Linked DNA regions of Homo sapiens: region 1 is linked to region 2. The links come from fine-mapping of genetic effects on gene expression. A gene starts in region 2. The other region holds a variant in brackets. All regions are shown on one strand. Distances are between the middles of the regions. Region 1 has its middle 63 kb from the start of DKK1. Region 2 holds the start of DKK1 (dickkopf Wnt signaling pathway inhibitor 1).

The links. PIP is the estimated chance that this variant, and not a neighbour inherited with it, causes the effect.
Region 1: its variant is fine-mapped to the expression of DKK1 in lung (TOPMed, PIP above 0.99).

Annotation. Positions count from the first base shown.
Region 1 is chr10:52,373,236-52,381,575 of GRCh38, forward strand. No RefSeq gene overlaps it. Among named protein-coding and RNA genes, the nearest start is that of DKK1, 63 kb to the left of the region's middle. The variant AC/A (reference allele first, on the strand shown) is at 3,566.
Region 2 is chr10:52,309,785-52,318,124 of GRCh38, forward strand. DKK1 (dickkopf Wnt signaling pathway inhibitor 1) reads left to right here and starts at 4,497. Exons shown (of 4, transcript NM_012242.4): 1 at 4,497-4,893; 2 at 5,139-5,301; 3 at 6,511-6,651; 4 at 6,770-7,873. The coding sequence starts at 4,651. The coding sequence ends at 7,023. It overlaps PRKG1-AS1 (PRKG1 antisense RNA 1), which reads right to left and starts at 4,344. Exons shown (of 6, transcript NR_038277.1): 1 at 3,850-4,344; 2 at 3,614-3,701.

The DNA.
Region 1 (8,340 bases), 63 kb after region 2:
GGTTAATATTGTTATATGTGGATTTGATCCTGTCATTATGATGCTAGCTAGGTATTTTGCTCATTAGTTGATGCAGTTTCTTCATAGTGTTGATGGTCTTTACAATTTGGTATGTTTTTGCAGTGGCTGGTACTGGTTGTTCCTTTCCATGTTTAGTGCTTCCTTCAGGAGTTCTCGTAAGGCAGGCCTAGTGGTGACAAAATCTTTCAGCATTTGCTTGTCTGTAAAGGATTTTCTTTCTCCTTCACTTATGAAGTTTGGCTGGATATGAAATTCTGGGTTTAAAATTCTTTTCTTTAAGAACGTTGAGTATTGTTCCCCACTCTCTTCTGGCTTGTAGGGTTTCTACAGATAGATCTGCTGTTAGTCTGATGGGCTTCCCTTTGTGGGTAACCCGACCTTTCTCTCCGGCTGCACTTAAAATATTTTCCTTCATTTCAACCTTGGTGAATCTGATGATTATGTGTCTTGGGGTTGCTCTTCTTGAGGAGTATCTTTGTGGTGTTCTCTGTATTTCCTGAATTTGAATGTTGGCCTGTCTTGCTACGTTGGGGAAGTTCTCCCGGATAATATCCTGAGGAGTGTTTTCCAACTTGGTTCCATTCTCCCCTTCACTTTCAGGTATACCAATCAAATGCAGGCTTGGTCTTTTCACATAGTCCCATATTTCTTGGAGACTTTATTCATTCCTTTTCACTGTTTTTTCTCTAATGTTGTCTTCACCCTTTATTTCATTAAGTTGATCTTCAATCTCTGATATCCTTTCTTCTGCCTGGTCAGTTTGGCTATTGATAATTGTATATGCTTCACGAAGTTCTTGTGCTGTGTTTTTCAGCTCCATTAGGTCATTTATGTTCTTCTCTAAACTGGTTATTCTAGTTAGCAATTCCTGTAACATTTTTTCAAGATTCTTAGCTTCCTTGCATTGGGTTACAACATGCTCCTTTAGCTCAGAGGAGTTTGTTATTACCCACCTTCTGCAGCCTATTTCTGTCAACTCGTCAAACTCATTCTCTGTCTTGTTTTGTTCCCTTGCTGGAGAGGAGTTGTGATCCTTTGGAGAAGGGGCATTCTAGTTTTTGCAACTTTCCAGCCTTTTTGCACTGGTTTTTCCTCATCTTCGTGGATTTTTCTATCTTTGGTCTTTGTTGTTTGTGACCTTTGGATGGAGTTTTTGCATGGTCATCCTTTTTGTTGATGTTGATGCTACTGCTTTCTGTTTATTAGTTTTCCTTCTGACAGTCAGACCCCTCTTCTGCAGGTCTGCTGGAGTTTGCTGGGGGTCCACTCCAGATCCTGTTTGCCTGGATATCACCAGCAGAGGCTGCAGAATAGCAAAGATTGCTGCCTGCTCCTTCCTCTGGAAGATTTGTTCCAGAGGAGCACCTGCCAGATTCCAGCTGGGGCTCTCCTGTATGAGGTGCCTGTTGACCCCTGCTAGGAGATGTCTCCCAGTCAGGGGCACGGGGTCAGGGACCCACTTGAGGAGGCAGTCTGTCCATTAGAAGAACTTGAGCGCTGTGCTGGGAGATCCTGCTGGTCTCTTCAGAGCCAGCAGGGAGGAACGTTTAAGTCTGCTGAAGCTGGCCCACAGCCGCCCCTTCCCCCAGGTGCTTTGTCCCAGTGCGATGGGAGTTTTATCTATAAGACCCTGACTGGGGCTGCTGCCTTTCTTTCAGAGATGCCCTGCCCAGAAAGAAGGAATCTAGAGAAGCAGGCTGGCTACAGTGTCCTTGTGGCACTGCATGGGCTCTACCCAGTCTGAACTTCCCAGTGGCTTTGTTTACACTGTGAGGGGAAAACCACCTACCCAAACCTCACTAATGGTGGATGCCCTTCCCTGCACCAAGCTTGGGCCTACCAGGTCGACTTCAGACTGCTGTGCTGGAAGCAAGAATTTCAAGCCAGTGGACCTTAGCTTGCTGGGCTCTGTGGGGGTGGGATCCACTGAGCAAGAGCACTTGGTTCCCTGGCTTCAGCCCCCATTCCAGGGGAGTGAATGGTTCTGTCTCGCTAGGGTTCCAGGTGACACTGGGGTATGAAAAAAAACTCCTGCAGCTAGCTCAGCATCTGCCTAAACAGCAGCCCAATTTTGTGCTTGAAACTCAGGGCCCTTGTGGTGTAGGTACCCGAGGGAATCTCCTGGTCTGTGGGTTGTGAAGACTGTGTGAAAAGCATAGTATCTGGGCCGAATAGCACTGTCCCTCACATCACGGTCCCTCACGACTTCCCTTGGCTAGAGGAGGGAGTTCCTGACCCCTTGTGCTTTCCAGTGAGGTGATGCCCCACCCTGCTTCTGCTTGCCTTCTGTGGGCTGCACCTGCTGTCTAATCAGTCCCAGTGAGATGAACTGGGTACCTCAGTTGGAAATGCAGAAATCATCCACCTTCTGCATTGGTCTTGCTGGGAGCTGCAGACCGGAGCTGTTCCTATTCAGCCATCTTGCCCAGGCTACATTTAATTTTTTCATGTTAGCCATTATTATATGAAATTTCTACTCAAATCTTTTCTCCTCATTTTAAAAAATGGGTTGTCTTATTATTATTGAGTTGTAAGAACACATTATTTATTCAGGATATGGTCTTTTATTGGATTTATTATTTCCAAATATTTTCTCAATGTCAATGTGTTGTCTTTTCATTTCTCTACTGGTATTTTTAAAGTTAAATTTTGATTCTGTCCAATTTACTAATAAAAATTTACTGTTACGCATTTTGTGTTCTATTTAAAAATTCTTTGCCTAACCCAAGGACATGAAAATTTTCTTCTTTTTTTTTTTTTTCCTAGAAGCTTTATATTTTTAACCTTTACATACAGATTCAGCTATCTTGAACTAATTTTTTTATATGGAGAGAGAGATAAATGTATGAATTCATCTTTTTGCATATAGACATCTAAATGTCTCAGCACCATTTGTTGAAAAGACAATTCTTACCCCATTGCTTGAAAATTCATTAAAAATTAACGGACTGTCATTAGCTTTTGATGGTTCCATACAGCCTGCTGAATCCATTCAAACTCTCCAGCCTGACTTTGTGGCTCTCCCACCCCCAGCCTCAGGGATACATCACAATGTATTAACACTCAGTATTATCTTTCACTCCTCTCCATTACTCTGTGTACCAATTAACCTAAATCAGTTGATTCCTAGTATGTGTTATGCTTTCCAATGAAATCTAGTTACTTACTTTACAACATTATTCCGCCTCATTTTTAGATGTTTAAATCTTACCTATTCATTTTAAATCCCACTTCATGGCTGGCTCTTCTGAGAAGCCTTCCTCCTACTAGATGGGATCTTTTCTCCTCTGAATGACCATGGCTCTCAACTTGTATGCCTTTGGATATGTGCCATTTTCTATTTTGCATTATAATAGTTCTGAAAATGCCTGTCTCCATTGTGGAATTAAAAGTTTTTTGAGAGAGGGTTTGATTTGTGTTCAGTTGATACTCAATCACTGTTTTTTGATTGAATGAATGAATAATATTACATGTAACTGCCCTTACAGGTTTAACAGTAAGCTATTTGCTGATAGACTGCACTATCTGAACTCAAAGCCCAGGA[AC/A]TTTGCTTAAGTCCACAAAGATTTGCTAATTCTTCACGAGAGAGTTACTGAGTCTGATTAAAATGTGTTTTCTTTTATCAGAAGGGTAAGACTCTTATCTGCTGTTTTCCAAGGTCTTGGTGACTGTTTTTGAACATGAAGATCAAAGGGCAGTGCCCTTCCCCCCAACCAATTGTAAGACATTTCAGAAAGTTAAATGTGAGGAATATTGTATTCAAATGTGAATTATATGAATGTGAATACTGAACAGTATTCACAGTTACACATTTGACATTTTGAAACAGTGGCAAGACAAATGTATTAGATTTACAGGTAGTTGTGAATGTTTCCATTGCTCAGTCAATATATTTTTTCTTTTCATAGCAACATTTGGAAGGTAGGTGCTCTGACTCACACCTTTTCATTTCTTGGCTTTCCAAAGAGCCGAGAAAAAAAATTTTTTTGACCCTTGAAAACACTAGATGCATAAGAAAACAGCATGGCAAGGAAACTTACTACATTCTGACTTCAGGAATTTGCCAGCATGGAAGGGTCTTTTCAAAAGTGAGGTGGAAATTCAGGATAAAACAGAGAGATTTAAAGTAGGGTGATCTGGAGAGTAACAAAAAGATCAGAGTAGGGGTGGGGAGGATTATGGAAGAAAGAAGAAAAGATGAGATGGAGTGAAGAAGATGGTAAAGTCTTTCCATAGACTTAAATAAGCTTTAGGCAATTATCGGAACTTTCAAGGGAATTATCTGAACTGCACATCTAAATTTGTTGAGGTTCCCCCATTGTAGCTAGTATCTGGTTAAGGTTTGCCTGGTAAACTTGCTTTTTTTGTGCCATGAGTGGCTTACAAGTCGAAATGATTCAGTGAAATCTTCAAAGTAAATCTGTGTCCACCAAAGCAGTTCACAGACCTGTTTGCAACTTTTCTATCCGTCTCCTAGACTATCTCCGATGATGCAGTCTTTGGACATTACATCTGCTATTTGAACACAGAACTCATTTTATCAAAAGAAACAAGAGTGCATTCCAGTCCACAATTTTAATGAATATCTTGGTAAGGATTCCAGACTCTTCCCTAGAAGATAAAAAGTTAAGTAAGCAAGTCATATACACACCTGGCTTTGACAATTGAATAATTAAAGAGATCGGCAAAGATAAATCTTTGGTTGCCAGAAAAATCATTAGAAGCACTATGTTGTTTTGTACATCTTAATGCAGCTCAAAATCTTAAAAAAATTTCAAAACGGAAATAAAAATATTGAATCACTATGATAATCAGTTTGTAAACTGAAACAAGCAATGAGAAAGAAAAAATTGGCAGATGGTGGGGGTGGACGAAAAAGTGGCAAATTCACGTGAGTGATGGAAACTCCCAAGTGCTGTATCTTATGCTTGGTACATGAGTGTTTGAGTTCGGGTGTTAGTTTGTCAATGGCTATGTGTCAGAACTGAGCATAAGGGTTTTTAGATATCCTTTATCATACTCAAACAAACCTTTCTCATTCCACAGTCAGATATTTTAGAATCCACAAAAACACAGAATTCACTGGGAGGAAACTACTTTGTAGTTACCTGATGAAGCAATAGGAATCACACAACTTTCATTGAACTGCTGGGGGTAAAGTGGATTGCTGGCCTTTTATCTTTTATCTCTGAAATTGGCCCCCCAGCAGTAGCTTTGTTAAATCTGACACATCTTGAATTTGCCTTTTTTAAATTGCAAATATAGCAGCTAGTGGTTTTATCTTTTTCAGTACCTATACTTCCACATTTTGAAGAGACTATTTTTAATGAGACTATTGTTAGCTACTTTAAAACATGTGGCATTCAGTTTTTAACAGGTTCAATTGGACGTCTTCCCCCAAGTGCAGAGGAAGCATTTATAAAACAAACAAATAAAAGGTAAGAGGAATAAATATGGGGTATTTGTGATGTACGGCGATACATTTTGAAAAGAGCAACATTCATAATAAGAAAGGGAAGTTTATCCAAAACACTGAAAATAAGCAATAACCTGGGTCCAGATACTTTTCTATTCTCCTGGCACCTGAAGAAATATTAATTTTATTTTAGCTAGAAAATAAACACACACACACAAAGACACAGACCCATACACACAGCATGTACATTTGTTTTCTAAAGAAAACAACCTTCTGGTTCTGCTTTTTTAATATGAGGCTGACTGAACAATTGTTAATATTTTACTTTTACATTTGTAGATGTTTTATCTTAGGAGATAGCTGTCAGATTCAATCAGCTTTTGAAATCGGTTTTTGCAGAAGATAACTTAACTTTAATGTATTGTATTTCCTCCCGCAATTACTAATTACTGAAGATTAATGTTTTCAAATAAGGCCTTTTCTCCATATAATCCGTCTCCTCTTCCTGCTTCAATCTAGCAAGAAACCTGCTGAAAGAGGTCATAATCCTATTGTTTGCAATATTATAGCCTATGACACTGGGAATGTTTAGGGTGTAATGACTGCAGTAAGAATCTTTGTGAGCAAGTAGAAAGTACAGATCATGAAAGAAATTAAGTTTCTCTGGTGGGTGATTTAACTGTGATGGGTTTTCTTGTCAGTTTGTTAACAATCTGCCTTTCAATGAATCTCGAAGCAGACTCAAAGCTGATTAAAAGCAGCATAGACTATAAGTAATATTGTGTAAACACTACCAAAGCGGGAGTTTCTTTATTACTCAGCTCTTATCTCTAAATCACACCAATTGTGTTAAATCTGACTGAGAGAGGCATGTTCTTCTTGGGTTTGGCCACCATAGAAATTTTACCTGAATTGCAGACATACAGGTATGGACCAGTTATTCTCTACTTTTTTAATTTATGTCCACGCTTTTATGATTTTTGACATATATACATTTATTATATAACTTTCACAATCTTATAATTTGTGGGCTTTATTTAAAATTTGTTATAATGATCCACTTTCAGTTACATGCATATTTATTTAATGTCTTGAATTAATATTTTGGTGTTGGTAACATTAATATGATCAAATTTTGAGAACTCCATTAAAATGCTATATACCTGAATAAAATGTATTTGATATTTCCCCCAAATAACAATTTTTTTTTTTTTTTTTTTTTTGAGACGGAGTCTCGCTCTGTCGCCCAGGATGGAGTGCAGTGGCGCGATCTCGGCTCACTGCAACCTCCGCCTCCCGGGTTCACGCCATTCTCCTGCCTCAGCCTCCCCAGTAGCTGGGACTACAGGCGCCCACCAACACGCCCGGCTAATTTTTTTTTGTATTTTTAGTAGAGACGGGGTCTCACCGTGTTAGCCAGGATGGTCTCGATCTCCTGACATCGTGATCTGCCTGCCTCGGCCTCCCAAAGTGCTGGGATTACAGGCGTGAGCCACCATGCCCGGCAAAATTTTTTTTTTCAGAATGAAGACGGTCCAGAGTTGAATGGTGAAATATACAAAACATTTAAGGAAAAGAGCATTGCTTGCTTTATTCCTCAGAACTACTTTGTTGATTCTCATGAAGAAATAAAGAAATCATCTGCATTCATTTTTATATACCAAAATCTTATTTATTTTTAAAGCAAATAAGAATCTGTAACAATACAAATGCAATGTGTTAACTCAGTACACATGTAAACATTTATTTTTATTTGCAACAATGCAGAACTCTATAAAAACTAATATAGCAACTATAAATGTATTTGGAAAGAGGTTGCTGAATGTTCTTCTGCTGTTGTGGGCTGTAAAGGTATTTCCTTGCCTCTCTTTCTTGTGATTGCTCAAAAAGCAATCAATGTTGAATCTTAAGAAATTTGTTACTAATTTAGAGTCTTGAAATTGTACTGAGACACTTCCTTGAATCTAAACACTAATCCCATTGAATTTTACATCTTTTGTAGAGGATAACATTAGATAATTGCATGGAAATGCTAAGGATAATTACATTTAAAAGTGTGGAATGACCAACAAATGTAAGATGTGATCGTCATTATGTATTTAAAGTTGAAGAATTAAAAACAAATATTTGTCATTAAAAATAAACCAATATAATTAAGGACAATAAGGACTTATAATTCATTGGAAAATAATGGTAATTCATGGGTTCATACTGATAATAGAGAGCTAGCTAGAGAAGCAGAGAAATGGTGGAGGAGAGAAAGTTCTTTCTCTTTTAACTTTAATTTAGATTCAGGGATATATGTACAGGTTTGTTACATAGGTAAACTTGTGTCATGGAGGGTTGTTGTACAGATTATTTCATCACCCAGATACTAACACTAGTATCTAGTAGTTATTTTTTCTCATCCTCTGCCTCCTCCCACCTTCTACCCTCAAGTAGACCCTAGCGTCTCTTCCCCTCTTTGTGTCCGTAAGTTCTCATCATTTAGTTTCCACTTATAAGTGAGAACATGTGGTATTTGGTTTTATGTTCCTGCAAAAGACATGATCTCATTCTTCCTGATGACTGCATAGTATTTTGTGGTGTATATGTACCACATTTTCTTTAACCAATCTGTCATTGATGGGCATTTAGGTTGATTTGATTTCTTTGCTATTGTGAATAGTGCTGCAATGAACATTTGTGTGTGTCTTTATGGTAGAATGGTTTATATTCCTTTGGATATGTACCCAGTAATGGGATTGCTGGGTCAAATGGTAATTCTGTTTCTAGCTCTTTGAGGAATCGCCGTACTGCTTTCCACAATGGTTGAAATAATTTACAGTCTCACCGACAGTGTATAAGCATTCCCTTTTCTCTGCAACCTCACCAGGCAAGTTCAACCTCAGAGCCTTGATGAA
Region 2 (8,340 bases):
AAAGGAGGTAATAATAGGAACCCAGTGACATGGAAGAAAATTGTTTTTCTGTAGATGCGGAGACTGTGTCATGGGATCCTACATCTTGCTTTCTGCAGACACTGGCCTATCCTTAGGGTTGGAGATGTTAAATCCTTTGGGGACTCAAAGAGGACATTGCACTCCCTATACCCACCACCACAGACCTTTCTGAGTGTCAGGACCTCAGAAAGGATGCAGGCAGATATCTATCTGGTTAGGCACTATCTTCACTGGGTTTAGAGGCTGGAACCCAGCCTCTACTCTCAGATTAGCTTTTAATGTCTTACTCCAGTAAAACACATCTTCTGAGCTTGGTTAGAAAGCTACCACGGAGCCTGATTTATCTGGGCTGGCCATCTCCACCGCCCAAATAAATGTAATCACGGTCAAATCTTGCCCTCTGTTTGTACTGGGGAGTGCAGAAAATCCAGCTCTCAGGGGAGTCATAACATGGACCAGGTCTAAAAGTTCTTTTAACATCATGAAGAACATTAAGACCAAACTGTTTTAAAAGTCAATGAGAAAGTCATATCATTTTTTACAAAACATCAGGAATGAGGAATCCCTGCTATACTCAAGATTGACACTAACAAAAATGTTGGCAACACCCACCGTAAGGAATGATATGTATGCGGTATTTTCCTAGCAAAGTAAAATTATATGGCAACAAATCTGCTTCTTTTGATTTAATGAAGAGAAAGAAGGAAAGAAGGGAAGGAGGGAGAGAAAAAAGAAAAGAGGAAAGAAGGGAATTTAAAATACAGCAGTAGACTGGGCGCGGTGTCTCACTCCTGTAATCCCAGCACTTTGGGAGGCCAAGGTGGGAGGATCACTTGAGCCTAAGAGTTTAAGACCAGCTCTGGCTAGCAACATAGTGAGACCCTGTTTCTACAAAAAAATTAAAAATTAGCCAGGTGTGGTGGCATGCAGCTGTAGTCCCAGCTACTTGGGGGTGAGGTGGAAGAACCGCTTGAGCCTGGGAGGTCAAGGCTGCAGTTAACCACGATTGCACCACTGTGCTCCAGCCTGAGCGACAGAATGAGATCCTGTCTCAAAAAATATATAAAAATATATAAAATAAAAAAAATCAGCAGTCACAAATAATAGAGATGGAAAAATAGTTGGTGAATAGCATGGAGTGTTTTGGAGTATATTTGTCTGTCTCCCTCATGGATGAAAAGGTTGAGAAATATTCTATGCATGGCATCCAGCACTTAAAATATAAAGAAGACATGTGTTAGCATGCTGTTCCCGAGTTATGAGGTTCAATTCCACGCTGATAAGCATATTTCACCTATTCAAAAATATAATACAAAATATTAAATTTGTTACATTAATTATGATCATATTTATACCAGACTGAATAGGAGGCAGGGTTCCCTACAGGACTAAATAAACTCAGTTTAATAAACTAAATTCATCTACTCTGGCTCCCACCTCCTCTGTCACCCAGCTGTAAGAGAGACTCAGACAATCACCAGAACCCTCTCTCCTTCCTAAGACATGTTGGTCACAGTTCCTGCACATTTTTCTTGCTCTCCATGACCTAGTATCTGCCAAAATATAATCGATGTTGGAAAAATTTTTACCCCCAGCCCCATGTAAGTATGTTGTATTTCCCCAACTAGTCACAGACTGAAAGCTGAGGACAAGAAGCCTGCCTTTCATATTGTGAGATATGCTCCCAATAATGGATACTCACCGAATATTAACTGGCTGCTGATGGAACAATGAGTTTTACTATACCTCTTTATCTACCTTGCACTCTTGTTGCCAATGAACAAACCACATCCTGGAAAGGATTTTCAAATGGAGAAAAAGTACTGAAAAAATAAATTTCCTCATTTGGAACAAAGGTTTGATTTGCTATGTACTTAGCCCTCTCTGAGGACCACCCATGTAATTTCTCCCCTGAATAATTTGTGAGGTTACCTCTCCTCTGCCCACTAAATGATTTGAAGGTAGATTATATGTGAACTCATCTTTTATCACACAATATCATGTATAATGCTTAGCACAAAGTAGGAACTCAGATATTGACCAACTCATTATTAGTTTTAAACTCATGACAACTTCAGGAGCAATGTGAAAGCTGAGGAAGGAGGTAGAAGCTAGCCCATTCTTGAAACTCTATGCTTGGTTTAGCTCTCCTAGCTCAATACCACAGATTCTGTCCAGACTCAGTGAATATTGAAACATAATAGACAAATGATATGTGTTCAGAGATCAAGGTTGAATTTATGCAACAAGCTTCTTTGTTATAACAGAATTTTCCTTTTGTTGATTAAATTGTTCCACTTTCTCTTCTTTTGCCCCAGGCAATGGATTTTTTTTGTGAAGCCAAGCTTTTAATGAACCAAGTTCATTAAATGTATTAATCATATACTATCTCTTCAGAAAAAAAGGCAAGAGATTGGCCTTTAGTGTGGCACAAATATATTTCTAGATTCAAAATATTTAAACAGGTTAATAGGACTAAAAAGAAACATTTTCAACCTTCTGATTGGCAGGCGGATTTTTCTCTACGTTTCAAAGTCATTCAAACTTAACACAGCTTGCAGATTTCCTAGTACACTGAAGGTGCTTAACGCATTGATTCCTGACAGGATAATTTCCTGGACAGATGGAATTTGGGATGGGAAGGACACTAATATAACTAGGGTACCATTCAAGAATTGTTTAGATGATCTTCTTAATATTACCTTTGAAACTGAAGGAACTAGAACACAGACCATAGTAAATTGTGTTTTAATTACTCCTTCTCCCAGTAAACTTTAGGATTTTTTTACTTTAAGATTGTCACTGGCTTTACTTGGTGGTGGCCCCAGTTCTGACTATAGTAGGTCAGCATGTGGAGTCATTATAGACAGCCTAAATCTATACAGCTTAGAGGAAGACAAAATAAATATATCTTACTCTTTTTTAATTCAATAGTGATTATTCAATCATCTCTCCCTTTTCCAAACTCACAAAACAGTTGCTTATTTTCTGACACTTATAATATCAACCTGTTTTTAAAAGAATTATGTATGCTTTTATATTTATTGCTATAATTTTATTGTTACTACATCTTTTATTATTACTGTAATTAGAATAAAGAGAACTTTATTATTTAAAATGAGAGCTGTGTCTCATAAATATTTGTATTCACTGTGCCCCTCCCCCCACCACCCATCTCACCAAAAAATTTAAAAAATAAAAATAAGGTAACAACCCAGAGGGCAGCCCAATGCCAGGGCTCTAGGCTTCCAATAAGTTTTTGTTGAATTAAATAGATCATTTCCCATTTATAAGCATGACATCATTCTTATACACCAGCCTTACTTTATTATATCCACACACCAATTTCAATGACGTCAAATTCACTTTCTAATTCACTTTCAGCTCTTCTTCTCCTCAAGGTTGTTTCTTTTCTCCCTAGAAAGGGTATTGCGTGGTCCCGTGCAAGGTAAGACTTGGGAGCAAACCCTGCATTCGGAAGCGTTGCGATGTGATATACTAATGAGGAAGTCAGGCGCTAAGCCCTAAGGGTTTCTTATTTCTCCACATTAGCCCACCACTGAGAAGGGAGAACCGGGGAAAGGCGACTGACCTGGCACGTTGGACCCTGTCCGCTTTGGTCCCGGCCACTTTGATCTCACGCGTCTGCCTAATCAAGTTCATCTACCGCCGCGATTGCCCTGATTCAAAGAACAACATTAAATGGTTTGATTATCGGATGGTCATTTCCCTCTTCCCTCCACCCCTGATCTAATTTCTAAACGCCAGTCTCTCGCCTCCCTCTCTAAACTTCCCATCAAAAGAGAATTAGCTCTTCTTCCTTCTTACCCTCGTTTGATGTGCAAATTTCCTTCTCTTTGCACATTTTTCTCGCAGTGGCGGGGGGAGGTGGGGGAGGAGGGCAACTGAAGGACCTCAAAGCCGGGGATCTAACTCAGATCTGCAAACTGCGACTCTAAAGGGTTAATGAGCAACTTGCACCCGCCACCTGGCCCTCTCAGAGGCGTCTTGCTAGAGCCATTGAATTACAGACCGGTTTGTATTTAATACTGAATATGACTTGTGTGCACAGTCAGCGAGTATTGGCATAAAGGAGAGGGGCAAAAAGTGCTTTTGCAGAGCCTATCACCCCTCGGCTCTGTAAAGTATTTCAGATCCGGATAATTCAACCCTTACTGCCAGGCAAGGGCACCCAAGTTCCCAGAGTTCCTGCTGCCGCCTGCATTTATTAAAGTCGTCTGCTATAACGCTCGCTGGTAGCCTTCACCCCGAAGGTGAGCCGGGCCAGCCGAGCGACTAAGCAAGGGAGGGGCGGGGTGAAGAGTGTCAAAGGCCCCCCTTCATGTACACAAACACACCCCCTCCCAGCCCCTCCCAGCGCTTTGAAATCCCATCCCGGCTTTGTTGTCTCCCTCCCAAGGGGCCGGAATGCTCCGGGCCCGCGGTATAAAGGCAGCCGCGGTGGCGGTGGCGGCGCAGAGCTCTGTGCTCCCTGCAGTCAGGACTCTGGGACCGCAGGGGGCTCCCGGACCCTGACTCTGCAGCCGAACCGGCACGGTTTCGTGGGGACCCAGGCTTGCAAAGTGACGGTCATTTTCTCTTTCTTTCTCCCTCTTGAGTCCTTCTGAGATGATGGCTCTGGGCGCAGCGGGAGCTACCCGGGTCTTTGTCGCGATGGTAGCGGCGGCTCTCGGCGGCCACCCTCTGCTGGGAGTGAGCGCCACCTTGAACTCGGTTCTCAATTCCAACGCTATCAAGAACCTGCCCCCACCGCTGGGCGGCGCTGCGGGGCACCCAGGCTCTGCAGTCAGCGCCGCGCCGGGAATCCTGTACCCGGGCGGGAATAAGTACCAGACCATTGACAACTACCAGGTGAGAGGGGTCGGGCACTCAGAGGATGCTCTGACCTTGAAAGGGTCCTATCTGGAGACGAGGGAGTAGAACGTGCTGAATGTGTGCGGTTCAGGGAGCATTTGGTAACCCTGCATTTGGGAGCAGTGGGCAGTAACAGGTTTTGGAGAGGTGGACAGATAAGGACTGTGATCAGCGCCCGGGTCCAAGAGGGCGGGTACCTGGACGTCTGGGTGCCTCACCCTCTCCCCGAACCCTTCCCACAGCCGTACCCGTGCGCAGAGGACGAGGAGTGCGGCACTGATGAGTACTGCGCTAGTCCCACCCGCGGAGGGGACGCAGGCGTGCAAATCTGTCTCGCCTGCAGGAAGCGCCGAAAACGCTGCATGCGTCACGCTATGTGCTGCCCCGGGAATTACTGCAAAAATGGTGAGTCCTGAAAGCTCCCTTTCACACTAAAACTGTCCAGCCTTTGAGCGTCTATGAATTGGGCGGGGGCGGGGGGTTGGGGGGGGTGGGGGGAGAAATCTCCGCCCTGAGAACACTGCGGCGCCACCTGCAAATGGGTGTTCAGCATGCAGGATTCCGCTGAAGTATCTTCATTGCAAGTGTTTAATCGGGAAGAAGAGAGAAGTTGGGAGGTCTCTGAGGTCCTTATCTTCCTCCGTGTCCCTCAATGATTCAATACAACGGTTCACCTCGTAGTGGACTCTTCCATAAAAATTTGTCTGGGGAGAACCTTGAGGTCAATTGAGAAGGGGGATGATGAGGAGGACGATGGGATCATACAGATATCAAAGAAACCAGCTTTGGCGTTCAGCTGTCCTTTTCATTTTTCTTATTGTGATTCTCACAGTTTTGCCAGACTGGCCTCGCCTTCTGATTTTTGCTGAAACTGTTGTCAGCCAGAGGACTGATTTATCTGCATTGGCCATTTTTAAGAGAGATCTTGGTACCCTCACAACTTGACTTCTCCATCCTTCCCCCTCCCTCTACCCTCTGCTGCCTTAATATAAGTACTCCTCCCCCCAACCACAGATCCACTAACTTTTAATTTTTCAAAAGGTGGATTTAGACAGCTAAAGAGGTCTCCAGAAATAAGCTAACAGGGCGACGACCCTCCTTAGGACCCAGCAGTACTCCAGGATGAACTAAGTAAATCTCTGTAATATAGAAATTACACAGTAAAGTAACTGGCCGGTGAGATTGCAATGTTCCAGGCAGCTGGAATTGCATTTGCTTAACTTAGTCTGGTAGGACCCATATAGCACCAGGGGCAGAGAAGTTATTTTTAAGAACATTTTTAAAGTGACTGAGTTTCTTTTTCTTACCCCAAAGGTAATATTAAAATGGGCAGAAATCTCACTTGCCCCTACCACAGTTGGTGGGAAAGTATTTTAAATGGCTATACTGGGGATATTACCTATGACTGACTGTATACAGTATACACATTGGTGCTTCTGTCCATCTGGAGAGTTTTGCATTAACAGTAAAGAGGAAGTTTGGCTTGTGTTTAAAATGATGTCACTGCAATGAAGTATCTCAAGTTGATGCTGGCATAACAGACTGCCACTGTCACAGCTGTTAGCAGTAATGCATTACAACCCTGAAGTTAATCACTATTTCCTGCTTCCTTAGGAATATGTGTGTCTTCTGATCAAAATCATTTCCGAGGAGAAATTGAGGAAACCATCACTGAAAGCTTTGGTAATGATCATAGCACCTTGGATGGGTATTCCAGAAGAACCACCTTGTCTTCAAAAATGTATCACACCAAAGGTAAGGATGTTAAGACTCATTCTTAGCACATCAGAAGTGTCTTTTGAATTATTTTAGTGAAACGATGCAGGTTTAACAGTAACTATGTACTTTTTTCCTACTGTCTTCTCCTTCGTAGGACAAGAAGGTTCTGTTTGTCTCCGGTCATCAGACTGTGCCTCAGGATTGTGTTGTGCTAGACACTTCTGGTCCAAGATCTGTAAACCTGTCCTGAAAGAAGGTCAAGTGTGTACCAAGCATAGGAGAAAAGGCTCTCATGGACTAGAAATATTCCAGCGTTGTTACTGTGGAGAAGGTCTGTCTTGCCGGATACAGAAAGATCACCATCAAGCCAGTAATTCTTCTAGGCTTCACACTTGTCAGAGACACTAAACCAGCTATCCAAATGCAGTGAACTCCTTTTATATAATAGATGCTATGAAAACCTTTTATGACCTTCATCAACTCAATCCTAAGGATATACAAGTTCTGTGGTTTCAGTTAAGCATTCCAATAACACCTTCCAAAAACCTGGAGTGTAAGAGCTTTGTTTCTTTATGGAACTCCCCTGTGATTGCAGTAAATTACTGTATTGTAAATTCTCAGTGTGGCACTTACCTGTAAATGCAATGAAACTTTTAATTATTTTTCTAAAGGTGCTGCACTGCCTATTTTTCCTCTTGTTATGTAAATTTTTGTACACATTGATTGTTATCTTGACTGACAAATATTCTATATTGAACTGAAGTAAATCATTTCAGCTTATAGTTCTTAAAAGCATAACCCTTTACCCCATTTAATTCTAGAGTCTAGAACGCAAGGATCTCTTGGAATGACAAATGATAGGTACCTAAAATGTAACATGAAAATACTAGCTTATTTTCTGAAATGTACTATCTTAATGCTTAAATTATATTTCCCTTTAGGCTGTGATAGTTTTTGAAATAAAATTTAACATTTAATATCATGAAATGTTATAAGTAGACATACATTTTGGGATTGTGATCTTAGAGGTTTGTGTGTGTGTACGTATGTGTGTGTTCTACAAGAACGGAAGTGTGATATGTTTAAAGATGATCAGAGAAAAGACAGTGTCTAAATATAAGACAATATTGATCAGCTCTAGAATAACTTTAAAGAAAGACGTGTTCTGCATTGATAAACTCAAATGATCATGGCAGAATGAGAGTGAATCTTACATTACTACTTTCAAAAATAGTTTCCAATAAATTAATAATACCTACCTAAATGGTCAATATTTTTCGGACAAGGAAGAAAATCATCCACAAAAATAATACTCCAAAGTACTTGGTGATTGGCAGGAACAGGATGTGTGCCCATAAATACAGTTAACAAATACATGCAGATTTTGTACCAAACAAAATAATTTGCAGTATCTTGAGTACTACTGCATGCAAAGCAGACTTGTTCTAATTATTTTGGTTTTAAAATAATTATTAATTAAAAATCACAAATCCTTCCTCATTCCACTCTTTTTTTCTCTTGCTAGGTGAGTTTCATATTTCAAGTTTTGTTTAACCTGAAATCTATTGATTGGAATGAGGATACGGATACAGTATTTTAAAGAAAACCCACAGGAATAAAATCTAAATTTTCTTTGCATTTGTACTTGCCAGATTTCATATTGTTTATACTGAGGAAAAGGGAAAGCAAACTTCCCAATTTATACTTTTTCTGTAGTATTCTAAA